4 linked regions of the Homo sapiens genome follow. The protein of the gene in region 4 purifies or fractionates together with the protein of the main gene of each other region. This does not show direct contact. Each region holds a gene or a part of one and is shown on either strand. Other genes may lie near its edges.

Evidence for each region. The genes of interacting proteins can lie anywhere in the genome.
Region 1: the proteins of SSU72 (region 4) and CPSF2 purify together in Homo sapiens (affinity purification with mass spectrometry; one large-scale study listed by BioGRID and IntAct). This does not show direct contact.
Region 2: the proteins of SSU72 (region 4) and THOP1 fractionate together in Homo sapiens (co-fractionation; one large-scale study listed by BioGRID). This does not show direct contact.
Region 3: the proteins of SSU72 (region 4) and ACAT2 fractionate together in Homo sapiens (co-fractionation; one large-scale study listed by BioGRID). This does not show direct contact.

Annotation. Positions count from the first base shown.
Region 1 is NC_000014.9:92,131,969-92,135,468, reverse strand, and holds part of CPSF2 (cleavage and polyadenylation specificity factor subunit 2), read right to left. Parts: intron 1,459-3,500; coding exon 1,299-1,458; intron 1,220-1,298; coding exon 1,114-1,219; intron 103-1,113; coding exon 1-102. UniProt on the Homo sapiens protein: Component of the cleavage and polyadenylation specificity factor (CPSF) complex that play a key role in pre-mRNA 3'-end formation, recognizing the AAUAAA signal sequence and interacting with poly(A) polymerase and other factors to bring about cleavage and poly(A) addition.
Region 2 is NC_000019.10:2,799,003-2,802,502, forward strand, and holds part of THOP1 (thimet oligopeptidase), read left to right. Parts: intron 1-686; coding exon 687-789; intron 790-3,028; exon of another isoform or gene 3,029-3,500. UniProt on the Homo sapiens protein: Involved in the metabolism of neuropeptides under 20 amino acid residues long. Involved in cytoplasmic peptide degradation. Able to degrade the amyloid-beta precursor protein and generate amyloidogenic fragments.
Region 3 is NC_000006.12:159,775,545-159,779,044, reverse strand, and holds part of ACAT2 (acetyl-CoA acetyltransferase, cytosolic), read right to left. Parts: intron 2,896-3,500; coding exon 2,773-2,895; intron 1,744-2,772; coding exon 1,589-1,743; intron 876-1,588; coding exon 765-875; intron 548-764; exon of another isoform or gene 387-547; coding exon 216-386; 3' UTR 1-215. UniProt on the Homo sapiens protein: Involved in the biosynthetic pathway of cholesterol.
Region 4 is NC_000001.11:1,567,501-1,572,847, forward strand, and holds part of SSU72 (RNA polymerase II subunit A C-terminal domain phosphatase SSU72), read right to left. Parts: intron 1-5,347. UniProt on the Homo sapiens protein: Protein phosphatase that catalyzes the dephosphorylation of the C-terminal domain of RNA polymerase II. Plays a role in RNA processing and termination. Plays a role in pre-mRNA polyadenylation via its interaction with SYMPK.

The sequences.
Region 1 (3,500 bases), on a different chromosome or scaffold from region 4:
CATAAACAATTTCTTCTTCTCCATCTTTGACTATTTTCCATATTGTTCCACCTATCATATGACCAGCTGGCAGAGGTGTGATAGACAGGCCATGTCCTTTACCTATGTCAACAAGATAACAATACTCAGATTTCTTTTACAACCCTAAAGAAAGGTTATTTATTTCTCAACTATAATATTTTAATAGGTAATACTGTATATGCAATAATACAAATTTCAAAAGTAAAAATGCATATAGTGAAAGCAGGCTTCACTCTCCTGTCCCCCACCTACTCCACTCCCTCACTAGAGGCAAACATTCTTGTTACTATATTATGTAATCTTGTAGAGTTATTTGTGCTTATAAGTACAAGGCTAGAGATTAGATTTAAAAGCTAGTACACTATTAAATTATTTAGTATGAACTAGCAAATTTTAATGTGTATTTTGTATATACAGTTACCAAATGTTTCCATTTTTGCTAACGTCTAAACTAACAGAATAATTTAAATCTCATTGTGCTAAAGAATTTATCCTGCAGAAAAATTAACTAGAAGCAAAACTGTTGAGACTGTTGTTATTTCTGGGCTAAATCTTCAGAGTCCATTATTGCACCATTTTATCAATGCCAGGGTTCATATCTATGAAAATATCTAATACAATTATCTCTGTAGATGATAAATATAGACTTAGTATAGGACTTCCTAATTCAATAATAAACTTTTTAACGTCCAATGCTAGAATTCATTATCTACTCTGCTGCCATAGCACTTCATTTACCCCAATCACTACATTTAGCCATCTCAGCTACTTTGTTGCCTCAATCTAACTGTAAGCTCTGAGGAAGAGGAAATGGCCACATTATCTTTTGTTTATTGTACACAGTAAACACTAAATGAGTTTTTCCCAAGTTAAATATGAAAAGGCCTGAGCTATTAACATTCTGTTAGCATTTTTTCTGAAATATTTTAAAATTCAAATGGAAGTTAAGAGTTCTGTATCAAGGCAGAATGTGCTAACTTTTTTATTCTTCAGCCTATAATGCCTATAATTTTCTCTCTGAATTCTCCTCGGTATTTTCCAGCAAGTTAAACCCCATTCATCTAAATACTTACTACTGGAAATTCTTTTTACCTTTCAAATTCACAATCTGAGAGAATTTTAGCTGCTGTATTTTATCAAAGGCTGCATCCACATCATCTAATGTAAAGAGTGTAAAATCTTCTGTATTGTGTCGAGACTAAAAGAATAACACAAATAAAGGTGAAAAACAATCACTGAAGGAGTGCTAACAAAATTTTTTTAATTGCTTAAATTACCTGATAAAGATCATACATGAACATCTGTCCCATTTTATAAACAGGAATGGTTGCATAGATAGCACAGTTCAGACCCAACTTTCCGACAGCATACGGGAGGGCACCAAGGTGGAGAGGATCAGGGTGAGACAACAGCACTGCATCAATCTGGTGAACATGCCTACAAGAACACAATCCAAAGGACTACTTCTTGAATCTTTTTAAGGGTAAAGACAGAATATTCAAAATTATTCACCAATTCTGGATTGAAGACTACACTGGGGCAGAAGAGCAAAACTAAGAGCTAAAATTATGATTACCTATGAATTTCAATTATTACTACCTGTGCTCTCCATAGCTACAAAAAATGTGGTATAAGGTACACTTAAATATATGGTGTGTACACACATTTTAAACAGAAAAGAAGGCCATGTGTGATGGCACACACCTGTAATCCCAGCACTTAGGGAGGCCAAGGCAGGCAAATCGTTTGAGCTCAGGAGTTCAAGATCAGCCTGGGCAACATGGCAAAACACCGTTCTCTATAAAAAATACAAAAAAAAAAAAAAGCCAGGGGTGGTGGCATGAGCCTGTAGTCCCAGCTACTTGAGGGGTGACATGGGAGGATCACTTGGGCACAGGAGGTTGACCTTGATGAGATCATGCCACTGCACTCCAGTCTGGGTGACAGAGTGAGACCCTGCCTAAAAATAAAAACAAGAACAAAAACAAAAAAGAACAGTAGACACAAGTAACTTGATTTTCTTTTTTTAGATGGAGTTTTGCTCTTGTTGCCCAGGCTGGAGTGCAATGACGCAATCTCCGGCTCACCACAACCTCTGCCTCCCAGGTTCAAGCGATTCTCCTGCCTCAGCCTCCCGAGTAGCTGGGATTACAGGCATGTGCCACCACTCCCAGCTTATTTTGTATTTTTGGTAGAGATGGGGTTTCTCTATGTTGGTTAGGGTGGTCTCGAACTCCCAACCTCAGGTGATCCGCCCACCTCGGCCTCCCAAAGTGCTGAGATTACAGGGGTGAGCCACCACGCCCGGCCATAAGTTGATTTTTAATAGCTATCCTGCATACTATTTTTTTTCTTTTGGAGATGTAGTCTCGCTCTGTTGCCCAGGCTGGAGTGCACTGGCGCAACCTCGGCTCACTGCGACCTCCACCGCCCGGTTCAAGCAACTCTCCTGCCTCAGCCTCCTGAGTAGCTGGGATTACAGGTGTCTACCACCACACCTGGCTAATTTTTTTATTTTTAGTAGAGACACACTTTCACCATGTTGGCCAGGCTGGTCTTAAACTCCTGACCTCAGGTGATCTGCCCTCCTCCACCTCCCAAAGTGCTGGGATTGCAGGCATGAGCCACCGCACCCAGCCTCACTTAACTCTTTTTGTTTTTTTTGTTTTTTTTTTGAGACGGAGTTTCACTCTTGTTGCCCAAGCTCTAATGCAATGGTGCGATCTTGGCTCACTGCAACCTCCGCCTCCCAGGTTCAAGTGATTCTCCTGCCTCAGCCTCCTGAGTAGCTGGGATTACAGGCATGCACCACCATGCCTGGCTAATCTTTGTAATTTTAGTAGAGATGGGGTTTCACCATCTTGGTCAGGCTGGTCTCGAACTCCTGACCTCAAGTGATCTGCCCGCCTCGGCCTCCCAAAGTGCTGGGATTACCGGCATTAGCCACTGTGCCTGGTCGCAAACTATTAATTTAAGTTCAAGAACTCAGCTTAGAATTTCAGAAATTATTATTGGCTGGGCATGGTGGTTCAGGCCTGTAATCCCAGCACTTTGGGAGGCCGAGGTAGGTGGATCGCCTGAGGTCAGGAGTTCGGGACCAGTCTGGCTAATATGGTGAAACCCTGTTTCTACTAAAAATACAAAAACTTAGCCGGCCGGGTGGTGCATGCCTGTAATCTCAGCTACTTGGGAGGCTGAGGAAGGAGAATAACTTGAACCCTGGAGGCGGAAGTTGCAGTGAGCCAAAAGCACGCCATTGCACTCCAGCTTGGGCAACAGAAGTGAAACTCCATCTCAAAAAAAAATAATAATAAAAGAGAAGAATTTCAGAAATTATTAAGGAGAGGATATTTATATGGCCACATACTTATAATGGATTTTTGTCCCAGCTTTTTCGCATAGTAACCACAGACAGTTTTGCTAATTGAATAGTAAAACTTCAGTTAATCAGGGAAGCATATGTTCTCATCAACACAAGA
Region 2 (3,500 bases), on a different chromosome or scaffold from region 4:
AAAACCAGCTTTACCAGATAAGGGGTAAAATGTTCAAAAGCTGCCAGACACGGTGACTCATGCCTGTAATCCCAGCACTTTGGGAGGCTGAGGTGGGAGGATTGCTTGAGCCCAGGAGTTCGAAACCAGCCTGAGCAACATGGTGAAACCCCGTCTGTACCAAACATACAAAAATTAGCTGGGTGTAGTGGCGTGTACCTGTAGTCCTAGCTACTCAGGAGGCTAAGGCAGGAGGATCAATTGAGTTGGGAGGTTGAGGCTGCAGTGAGTCGAGATCATGCCACTGCATTCCAGCCTGGGCAACAGAGCGAGTCCCTGTCTCAGAAGAATGTTGAAAAGCTTAGGCTGCAGGCTCTGAAGGTGATTCCTTAATGGATAGGAGGGTCTGGAGCACTCTTGGCCAGGGCCACACCTGACAGACCGGAGCACATCCCTGAGGTTGCCCGAGGTCACCCAGCTTTGGATGCCGCAGCTGGTGTTGAAATCCACACTGCGCAGCCTCGTGGCCTCCGTGTCTGTCTGTCCTCCGCCTCCCGTCTCACTCTTTCCTCCTCGGTTGCCTCTTCTTTCGGCCTGGTTCTTGGGGAAATCCCTCAGCCCTCGGCGAGAGGGTTCCCAGGCGTTGCGTCTCCCCGCGGAGCCCGCCCCGGTCTCTCCCTCCCCTCACGCCCCGCCTTTCTCTCCAGAACATCAAACGCATCAAGAAGAAGCTGAGCCTTCTGTGCATCGACTTCAACAAGAACCTGAACGAGGACACGACCTTCCTGCCCTTCACGCTCCAGGAGCTAGGTAGGGGCCGAGCAGTGGGGCACGGGTGGCCATCGGTCCTGGGACTCAGTGCAGGCCTGCCAGGCCCTCGGGGGCCGCCGCTTCCTCCTGTGGGCTTCTGTGCTGAAGGGCGGCGGGAGGCCGAAGTACGTGGACCTGACCGCCCTGGGCTGAGGACTTTCCTCACCGGAAGCGCTCCAGGGCCGTTTACAGCCAAAAGCTCTGAGCCCTCCTTGGGGAGGGCCATGGTCTGTCCCACCAAGATTCCACCCTGATAGAAAATGTCCCTGGCAGTGGCGGAAGCCCAGGCCGGACGGGGTGGCCAAGGGTGCCAGTCTCAGCCATGGCCCTGAGGGAACCACAATTTTCCCTTGAGACCCCACTTCCTGCCTGCCTTTATTTATTTAATTTAATTAATTAATTAATTTATTTTGAGATGGAGTCTTGCTCTGTTGCCCAGGCTGGAGTGCAGTGGTGCGACCTCCACTCACTGCAACCTCCGTCCCCCGGGTTCAAGTGATTCTCCTGTCTCAGCCTCCTGAGTAGCTGGGACTACAGACGTATGCCATCACACCTGGCAAATTTTTTTATTTTTAGTAGAGACGGTTTCGCCGTGTTGGCCAGGGTGGTCTCAGACTCCTGGGCTCAGGATCTGCCTGCCTCAACCTCCCAAAGTTCTGGGATTACAGGCATGAGCCACCGTGCCCAGGCAGGCCGGAATATTCTGATGGGTGCTATAGAATATAACCTCCAGTTCTAGACTCTGAATGTAGTTGCCTCTGAGGTGGTGGGTGGGGACAAGGCCCTCATGGCCGGAGGCCTCCGCAGGTGGCTTGATGTGTGGTCACCTGGGCGTATGTTTCCTGAGGGAACACTCGCAGGTCGGGCACTGCCAAGCTTGGCTGCCAGCCACTTGCTCAGCCCTCCCGTGTCTCGGGCAGCACATCCTACCCTCAGCTTCTGGCACTCAGGAGAGACGACGGGCTACAATCTGCCGTAAAGCACGTTTCCCAGCCTGCCCCTCAGTGGGTGCACTGATCACCCGCACCATTCCCGCAGCCACCCACGCCATCCCGCGGCCACCCGCACCGTCCCCGCGGCCACCCGCACCATCCCCGTGGGGCTGCTTCTCCTGCCTGCTCGTGTTAGCAAGCAGAAGGACTCGGTGCCTGATGTTCTAGAAGCCAATGCCATGGCACCAAGGATTTGAGGAAACAAAAGCTTCTCATTGCAAGTGACTCCCAAGGAGACTGGGCGTCCAGCTCAAATCTGCCTCCTGTGCCAGCTTTCAGGCAGTACTTTCATGAGAGAAGGTGCAGAGGTGGATTCTGGGATTAGCAGGTGATTGTTGGAAGGAAAGGGGAGGTCTGGAAGGTCCTTGGGCACGCACAGTTATCTGTCCGTGCCAGCTCGTGGGTCCTGGGTGTGAATCCTGGGGAAGTCTGTATGAAGCGCGGTGGAAGTTCAGTTGGCATCAGCCAGCTGGTTCTGCACAGACTCTGCTGGCTCATGTGGGTTCCAGCCGGTTTCAGCCAGTTTTGTTCTTGTCGGCGTTTCAGCTGCCTGTTTCTTTTCACGTTTGCCATCCTGCAAACTCGAATGTTTGTGGATTTTGGTGTCTAACTCTTTGGGGTGCCGTTCCATTTGTCGGGCCTGAGGGGTCTCCCGTGCAGGTGGCTTGAGTCCCATGTGGCCAGGTGACACCGTCATGCGGGTGGCTAGCGTGTTGGGTGACAGTCTCCAGGGCTGTCCGCTGCTGCTGCCCCGGGACCTGTTTCCCTTTGTGGTCCGTCATTTCTCAGGAGACGCCTTGCGATGGTCTTAGTTCCTTTTCTTCTGCTTACAACAGAAAACCTAAGGCCATGTAGTTTATAAGAAAAGGAATTAACTTGTCACAGCTCTGGAGGCTGAGAAGTCCCAGGTCGAGGGGCCATATCTGGCCAGGGCCTTCTTCCTGGTGGGGACTCTGGAGCCCTGAGGCGGCCAGGGTGTCACATGGCAAGGGGAGGGGGCTAAGCGAGCCGGTTCCACCCAGGTCTCTCCTCCTCACAAAGCCCCAGGCCCTCTGCCACATTAACCCATCTGTCCCTTCATCCATGAATCCATGAATGGATTCATCCATTCCTGAAGGCAGAGGCCACATGACCCAGCTGCCTCTTGAAGGCCCCAGTACCTAATCCTGCCATCTCCCAATACCACCATCTCCAACACCGCCATCTCCCGATACCCACATCTCCCAATACCCACATCTCCCGATACCGCTACCTCTCAATACCGCCACCTCCCAACACTGCCATCTCCCGATACCCACATCTCCCAATACTGCTACCTCTCAATACCACCACCTCCAACACCACCATCTCCAACACTGCCACCTCCAACACCACCATCTCCAACACCGCCACCTCCAACACCGCCGTCTCCCGATACCTCCACCTCCGGACACCCCCACCTCCTGACCCACCCACCTCCCAACACCAACACCTCCCGACACACCCACCTCCCGACACCCCCACCTCCCAATACCAACACCTCCCGACACCCCCACTTCCCGACACCCCCACCTCCCGACACCAACACCTCCCAACACCAACACTTCCCCACACCCCCACCTCCCAACACTAACACCTCCTGACACCCCCACCTCCCGACACCCCCACCTCCCAACACCAACACCTCCCGACACCCCCACCTCCCGACACCAACACCTCCCGACACCAACACCTCCCGAC
Region 3 (3,500 bases), on a different chromosome or scaffold from region 4:
TCTGATGTTCCTTTTATTTATAACAATGTTAAATGCAATTGTCTTGTACCTTGAGTTGAGTATTACACATTAAAGTAAAGTACAAGCTGTAAACTTGGGTTTTTGTGATGTAGGAAATGGTTTCCATCTGTACTTTGGTCCTCTGATTTCACATATTGCAACCTAGTACTTTATTAGTTTAAAAAGAAATTGAGGTTGTTCAAAGTTTAAGCAATTCATTCTCTCTGAACACACATTGCTATTCCCATCCCACCCCCAATGCACAGGGCTGCAACACCACGACTTCTGCCCATTCTCTCCAGTGTGTGTAACAGGGTCACAAGAATTCGACAGCCAGATGCTCCAAGAGGGTGGCCCAAGGCTATAGCCCCTCCTTCAATATTGACCTAACGGGGGAGAAAAGATTTAGATTGTTTATTCTTCTGTGGACACAGTTTAAAATCTTAAACTTGTCTTTTTCCTCTTAATGTATCAGCATGCTACCCTTTCAAACTCAAATTTTCATTTTAACTGCTTAGGAATAAATTTACACCTTTGTGAAAATTCATCCCTGCCTATCTTACCTCGTTCCTTTTATGCCAAGTAAGCCAATGTCTTTTTTTTTTTTTTTTTTTTTTTTTAAACCTTGGGAAGTAATGAACTCAGTCCTAGTAACTAGTATTTCTTTAACTATTACCCACATGGCCAACACCTAGAAGATACTATCTTAAAATTGGATTGTGAAATTCACTGGTAAGCTCTCAGGGTTACTTGTGCATCTTTACCTTCTCTGGGTTTAATCCAAGTTCTTTAACTATTGCAGCAGAGACAGCTGCAAAGGCTTCATTGATTTCAAATATGTCAACATCTTCCAGTGACCAACCTGCTTTTGTAACCTAGAGGAAAGATTCATAGAAAAGAGGTCTAAACTTGGGTGGAAAGGCTAAAGTTAAACCATTCTTTGTCAACATAAATATATGCTGCATGATACTGGTAACTGCTACTTTGGTTTGTTCTTAGGTTAATACAGTGACATTCTCACACATTTTTGCCTTAGTGACATCCATTCCATCCAAAAGGTTAAGGGTGTGATCTAAAAGATCCCTTAGAAATTCTAAATTGTCTTAAAATTTTGAACCAGTAGCATCTGTTATGTGTACCTAAGGCTAATGTAACAGAATCAGTTCCCCTAGAAAGCATGTGATCCAAATGCTCTCAGTGGCTGGGGGTAGTGGCTCACACCTGAAATCTCAACACTTGGGGAGCCTAAGGCAAGAGGATCAATTGAACTCAGGAGTTCAAAACCAGCCTGGGCGACATAGACCTTGTCTCTACGAAATGAAGAAGGCGTGGTGCACCTGTAGTTCGAGGTAATGGGAGGCTAAGGCAGGAGGAATATTTGAGCCTAGGAGTTTTGAGGCTGCAGTGAGCTATGATGGTGCCACTGCACTCCAGCCTGGACAACAGAGCAAGACCTTATCTCAAAAATAGAAATAAATGCTCTTGGTTACTCTTCTGGTAGGGAAAGACTAGAGCTAACTACATGAATAAGCTCACTTAAGGCTAACAGGAAGACAAATTTCATAAAAGGGAATAGGGTTATACTCACAGCTTGCTTTATGGCTGGAATTGGTCCTATTCCCATAATGGAAGGCTCCACACCCACTTGGGACCAGGAAACTATCCGTGCTAAAGGTGTAAGCCCACGTTTATCAGCTTCTGACTTCTTCATAAGAACGACAGCTGCAGCACCATCATTTATTCCTGTAAAATATGAGTGACTTAATTTCTACCATGCTTATTAACCTCAGTTACATATCTGTGGCTTCTTTACCACCTGAAGACATGAGTTAAATGATTTTACCTGTTGGCTAAGGCATTTACTATAATTCAACAGACTTTACATAGAAATTATGTTTGGCAATATATTGACCACAAAACTTTCCAACTAGAGAAAGTGGTAGGATTACAGTAGTCGGGGCTGGGCGTGGTGGCTCACGCCTGTAATCCCAGCACTTTGGGAGGTGGAGGAGGGTGAATCACCTGAGGTCAGGAGTTTGAGACCAGCCTGACCAATAGGGTGAAAGCCATCTCTACTTAAAATAGAAAAATCAGCCGGTGTGGTGGTGTGCGCCTGTAGTCCCAGCCACTCAGGAGGCTGAGACAGGAGAATTGCTTGAACCTGGGAGGCGGAGATTGCAGTGAGCCAAGATTGCACCACTGCACTCCAGCCTGGGCGACAGAGTGAGGCTCCGTCTCAAAAAGAAAAAAAAAGGATTACAGCAGTTGGGGAGGGGAGATCTCTGACAGGAAATGGAAGAATAAGCCTGGGCTTCACAAGGAGGTATTGGGAGTTTCTGGTACTGGAAAAATACAAAGGTAGATAAACTGAAGTTCCCTAATTTACTTCTTCATTTGTATGTCTAGTTGGGATGTCAAGAAACCAAATTAATTCTTTCAGTATAGGTTAAGTCAATGATCAAATACAGAGAAATGACATGTTTCCTTAAACTGTTTTAAGAATAATTTTGTACATAAATATTGAGTTGGGTGTGGTGGCTCATGCCTGTAGTCCCCCAGCTACTTGGGAGGTTAAGGCAGGGGGCTCACTTGAGCCCAGGAGTTTGAGGCTGCAAGTGAGCAATGATCATATTGCTGCACACGAACCTGGCTGGCAGAGTGAGTCCCTGTCCCAAAAAATAGTACTTTTGTATATAAATAAAGAGAAAAATATTCACTCGGTAGACATTATAGAACATAGTATTCCCCCAGATGTCCTTCAGAAAATCTAACCTGAAGCATTGGCTGGGGTGACTGTTCCCGTTCCATCAGTAAGAAAGTAAGGCTTTAGCTTGGACATGGCTTCTATGTTGCTCCCATGGCGAGGAAACTCATCTGTTTTAACTTCAATAAGACCTAAGCAAAGGAAAACCAATTACTCAAGATTAGTCCAGAGACAGAAGTAAGTGTGCTGGGAATGGTGGGTTCTCTGCCATTAAACATGAGGATTCATATTTAGCAGAAAAGTTTTAATATGTGACCACTTTGATGACAACAGGAGGAAAGTACACACAAGAATTATTGTACATGAAAACAATTTATGAGTATGTCCTTATGAGACACCTGTGTTTTCCAAATCCATAGGCCTTCCTGAGGAAAGTAGCTACCAGGGACCTGTTTGTGCCAAATTCTGCTATAGTTTGGGTCATAGTACTTGGCTGGTTACGAGTGAGTGGATCAGGCAGTCTCAAAGCCAATCGTGCACTGCTGGCAGGACATAAGAGATATCAGTTATCAATAAGGGAGCTTGACGGGAGCATTCTGTATTAGAAAATAGCGAGTGACCCCAAAAGATCCACCCTTTAGAAATGTGAAATGGAGATCACACAGAAACAGCGAGAAGTAATGGGTGTCCACTTCTGAGGAGGTTGAGCCTATACAGGAAACAGGTCAGCTGGTGCCTCCTAACAACCATGAGCCAGTGCTCCAGCTTCTCATGAAACCTGCTGTGTGTGCACAGT
Region 4 (5,347 bases):
ACGGAAACATGAGGTTAAAGCAATAAAGTCAACTGTTGGTTGTGACTGAGAGGGTGACGGAGGCCCAGACACAAGGCATACCACAGGGAGCACACGTGAGAAACAACAAGCCTAAAATGACTTCCTTACCAATTCAGACAACATACAATAAAATATGTTCCGTCAAAGCACAAACAAGGGCCGGACGCGGTGGCTCACTTGAGGTCAGGAGTTCGACAACAGCCTGGCCAACATGGTGAAACCCTATCTCTACTAAAAATACAAAAATTAGTCATGGTGGCACACGCCTGTAATCCCAGCTATTCGGGAGGCTGAGGCAGGAGAATTGCGTGAACCCCGGAAGCGGAGGTTGCAGTGAGCCGAGATCGCGCCATTGCACTCCAGCCTGGGAAACAGAGCGATACTCTGTTTCAAAAAAAAAAAAAAAAATCGCACAAAGAAGCCCAGGATCAGCGTGATCACAGCAGCCAAAGGAGACAGCCTGCCTCCCAACACCAACAAGAACTCACCACCTGCTGGACGTTCCTTTAAGTTAGCCTATTTAAAAACAAAATGCAGTTTGTTTTTCCCCCAACAAAAGGTTCACGAATGGCAAAAAGGCTATTTAGCAACAGAAGCAGTATTTCTCCCAAACTGATGCAACCGACAGGGCAGCCAGCTTGCGACTCAACAGCGTTTCTTACATAAAAGCAAGGACAGCTTGGAAAACACTCCTGACACCAACAGGCTTCGCCTGAAGGGCCAACGCCTTTGTAAACTAATCTTCCAGACAAGTATTTGTCTGGTATGCCAAACAACTGTCTTTACAAGTACCAAAAATCTATCAGAGGGCTTGTAATCCCAGCACTTTGGGAGACCAAGCAGGTGGATCACTTCAGCTCAGGAGTTTGAGACCAGCCTGGCCAACATGACAAAACCCCGTCTCTACTTTAAAAAAAAAATAAAAAAATAAAAAAAGCCAGGCGTGGTGGTGCGCGCCTGTAATCCCAGTTACTCCGGAGGCTGAGGCTGGAGAATCGCTTGAACCCGGGAGGTGGAGGTCGCAGTGGGCCCCGTGATGGTGCCACTGCACTCCCGCCTGGGTGACAAAGTGAGACTCTGTCTCAAAAAAACTCCAAAAAACTATCATAAAGAAGCCATCAGGCGGGGCATGGTGGCTCACGCCTGTAATCCCAACACTTTGGGAGGCGGAGGAGGACGGATCACTTGAGGTCGGGAGTTTGAGACTAGCCTGACCAACATGGAGAAACCCCGTCTCTACTAAAAATACAAAACTAGCCAGGCGTGGTGGCTCATGCCTGTAATCCCAGCTACTTGGGAGGCCAGGAGTTCAATACCAGCCTGGGCAACACAGTAAGACCCTGTCTGTAAAAATAAATAAATAAATAAGGCCAGGCACGGTGGCTCACGCCTGTAATCCCAGCACTTTGGGAAGCCAAGGCAGGCAGATCACCTGAGGTCAGGAGGTTGAGACCAGCCTGGCCAACATGGTGAAACCCCGTCTCTACTAAAAATACAAAAAAATTAGCTGGACATGGTGGTGCATGTCTGTAGTCCCAGCTACGCAGGAGGCTGAGGCAGGAGAATCGCTTGAACTCGGGAGGCAGAGGCTGCAGTGAGCCGAGATCTTGCCACTGCACTCCAGCCTGGGCGACAGAATGAGACTCCGTCTCAAAAAATAAAATAAAAGAAAAAAACAAAAAAACAAAAACAAAAAGCCACAAAACAAACAAACAAAAAACCTAACTGGTTCCAAGGGGACACTTTAATCCTTGGAGCACCAAGCGCAGGAGGCTCTGTGGAAACGTACGGCGGAGTCTTCTGGCGCTGCCCTGAAACATGAGGACTCCCAGGACTCTGGTATTTGAAACAATTTAGTCTCTAACACCAAAGATGATCACCCCAGAGAACGCTAACATGTCGACACTTACTATCACTTGGATTTATCAGGAAAATAGAGTCCACGCTGATTTTCAATAGGGTGAAATTGTTACTGTGTCTGTTTTTAGAGACAGAGACTTGGTTTGTCGTCCAGCCAGGAGTTCAGTGGCGCAGTCACAGCTCACAGTCATAGCTCACCACAGCCTCAACCTCTTGGGCTCAAGTGATCTTGCTGCCCCGTCTCCCAAGCAGCCAGAATGACAGGCATGTGCAACCACATGTGGCTAAGTTTTAAAATGTTTTGTAATGATAGCGGGTCTCACTGTGTTGCCCAGGGCTCAAACTCCTGGGCTCAAGCAATCCTCCTCCCTCAGCCTCCCAAAGTGCTGGACTATAGGCCGAAGAGCCACCTTGCCAGGCCCAAAATTTTTAAAAGGGGCGAGGTTCACTGATCAGCTAGCTACTGTGCCTGCTCAGTTAACTACAATTCCTTCTGACAATTTTATTTCAGCTTTCCTGTGCAGTTTTATGTAGCCCTACCCAACTGCATACAATTTTCCTGCTTTTTTCACTTACCATAAGCATTTCCTACGCTTTTCACATCATTTTTAACGCCTAAAAGACTCTCTAAATCTGACTTTCACAAGCTTTCCCAGTGTAACAGAAAAGCACTATCACACAGAGTTTCTGAGTATTAAAACTCTCTAAATAAACCCAAATCAATAGACAAAGGACATAAACAGGTAATTTTCAAAAGCAAAAATGCTCTGGGTGCGGTGCCTCACACCTGTAATCCAAATGCTTTGGGGCGCTGAGGCAGGAGGATCGTTTTAGCCCAGATATTCAAGGGTGAAGTGGTGAGCTATGATCACGCCACTGCACTCCAGCCTTACTCTGGCTTGAAAAAAAAAACAAAAAAAAAAGGGAAAATGACAACAGACATAAATTCCAACTTCAATAAGGCCAAGCTAGAAAACCGAGACATGGAAGAACACCCTGCCGACCAGAGGCCAGGAGAAGTGGAGTGAAATTTCCTAAGAGTCTGAAGGATTTCCTGCCCGTTACCCCCGAGACCCCAGTCATGACATGGAGGAAGAGCCACATGCAAGATGGACACAAGCCACAAGCTGTGCTGTGAACCTGGGCACTCAGCGCCAATGCCACCAGTCTGTGAGTCTCTGCAGGGACCCCCCCCACCCCAAAATCGGACTGCCAAATTCTCCCGTTTGACTGGGGTATTATAGAAAATTATTTGTATGAATAATGAAAATAAGCCATCTCGTGGCAAAAAAAGGAAACTAATGATGTGAATACTAACTATGGAGCAGACAACAGAACAAGAGCTTATCCCCGATGCATGCGTGAACACATGGAGACAGACGGACACCAAAATGGTACCTCTGAGAGACCACTTTCATTTTCTACAGTAAGAATTTCTGCAACAAGCAGGCTGGGCGTGGTGGCTCACGCCTGTAATCCCAGCACTTTGGGAGGCCAAGGCGGGCAGATCACGAGGTCAGGAGATCGAGACCACCCTGGCCAACACAGTCAAACCCCATCTCTACTAAAAATACAAAAAATTTGGCCGGGCGCGGTGGCTCACGCCTGTAATCCCAGCACTTTGGGAGGCCGAGGCGGGCGGATCACGAGGTCAGGAGATCGAGGCCATCTGGCCAACACGGTGAAACCCTGACTCTACTAAAAGCACCAAAAATTAGCCGGGCGTGGTAGCGGGTGCCTGTAGTCCCAGTTACTCAGGAGGCTGAGGCAGGAGAATGGCATGAACCCGGGAGGCGGAGGTTGCAGTGAGCTGAAATCGCGCCACTGCACTCCAGCCTGGGCGACAGAGTGAGACTCCATCTCAAAAAAAAAAAAAAAAAAAAAAAAAAAAAAAAAAAAAAGTTAGCTGGGAGTGGTGGCAGGCGCCTGTAGTCCCAGCTACTCGGAGGGTTTGAAGGAGAATCGCTTCAACCTGGGATGCAGAGGTTGCAGTGAGCCAAGATCGTGTCATTGCACTCCAGCCTGGGCGACAGAGGGAGACTCCGACTTCAACAAAAAAAAAAAAAAAGGAAATTGAAGGTCTATGTCTAAATTAACTTCATGATATCCATATTCATGATATCCATAATAGATGTCACCTTAAATTTACTTCCTTTTGACTCTCTTCTGAGTCTACTCTTTTATGAGTAAATTTGAATGATGGCGGCACAGGTAAAAGCACACCCAAGAATTCATTATTCAGAGGTGCTCTCCGCTCCTTTTCCAGAGACCACAGCTCTGCCAGCAACGGCCACTGGCCACTCTGAACTAAAAAGGACTTGGTCATCTTCAGTCATCGTCTCAGCGAGGTTATGACTGGCATGTCTTTAAAGTAGCCGCTAAACCTGATTTTATTAACAAGATAGCTAAATAATTTTTTTTTTTGAGACAGAGTCTCGCTCTGTCACCCAGGCTGGAGTGCAGTGGCCGGATCTCAGCTCACTGCAAGCTCTGCTTCCTGCTTCCCGGGTTCACGCCATTCTCCTGCCTCAGCCTCCTGAGCAGCTGGGACTACAGGCGCCCGTCACTATGCCGGGGTCATTTTTTTGTATTTTTTGTAGAGACGGGGTTTCACCATGTTAGCCAAGATGGTCTCGATCTCCTGACCTCGTGATCCACCTGCCTCGGCCTCCCAAAGTGCTGGGATTACAGGCGTGAGCCACCGCGCCCAGCCCTAAATAGAATTTTTAAAACATTTCCTTTTGTTAAGATTTCTACTCCATCTTGCCAGGCGCAGTAGCTCACGCCTATAATCCCAGCACTTTGGGAGGCCCACGCAGGCGGATCACGAGGTCAGGAGATCGAGACCATCCTGGCTAACATGGTGAAACCCCGTCTCTACTAAAAATACAAAAAAATTAGCCGGGCGTGGTGGCGGGCGCCTGTAGTCCCAGCTACTCAGGAGGCTGAGGCAGGAGAATAGTGTGAACCCAGGAGGCGGAGCTTGCAGTGAGCTGAGATAGCACCACTGCACTCCAGCCTGGGCTACAGACTCCCCCTCAAGAAAAAAAATATATATTCTACTCCAACTTTATTTTATTTATGTATTTATTTGAGATGGAGTCTTGCTCTGTCGCCCAGGCTGGAGTGCAGTGGCATGATCTCGGCTCAATGCAAGCTCCGCCTCCTGGGTTCATGCCATTCTCCTGCCTCAGCCTCCCGAGTAACTGGGACTGCAGGCGCCCGCCACCACGCCCGGCTAATTTTTTTGTATTTTCAGTAGAGACGGGGTTTCATCGTGTTAGCCAGGATAGTCTCAATCTCCTGACTTTGTGATCCGCCCATCTCGGCCTCCCAAGGTGCTAGGATTACAGGTGTGAGCCACTGCGCCCGGCCTACTCCATCTTTGTTATGCAGGTACAGCAGAAAATCTTGAACAAAGGATCACCAAGGAGAACCAGCAGAACCAGAAGGTCTCCAGCCCATT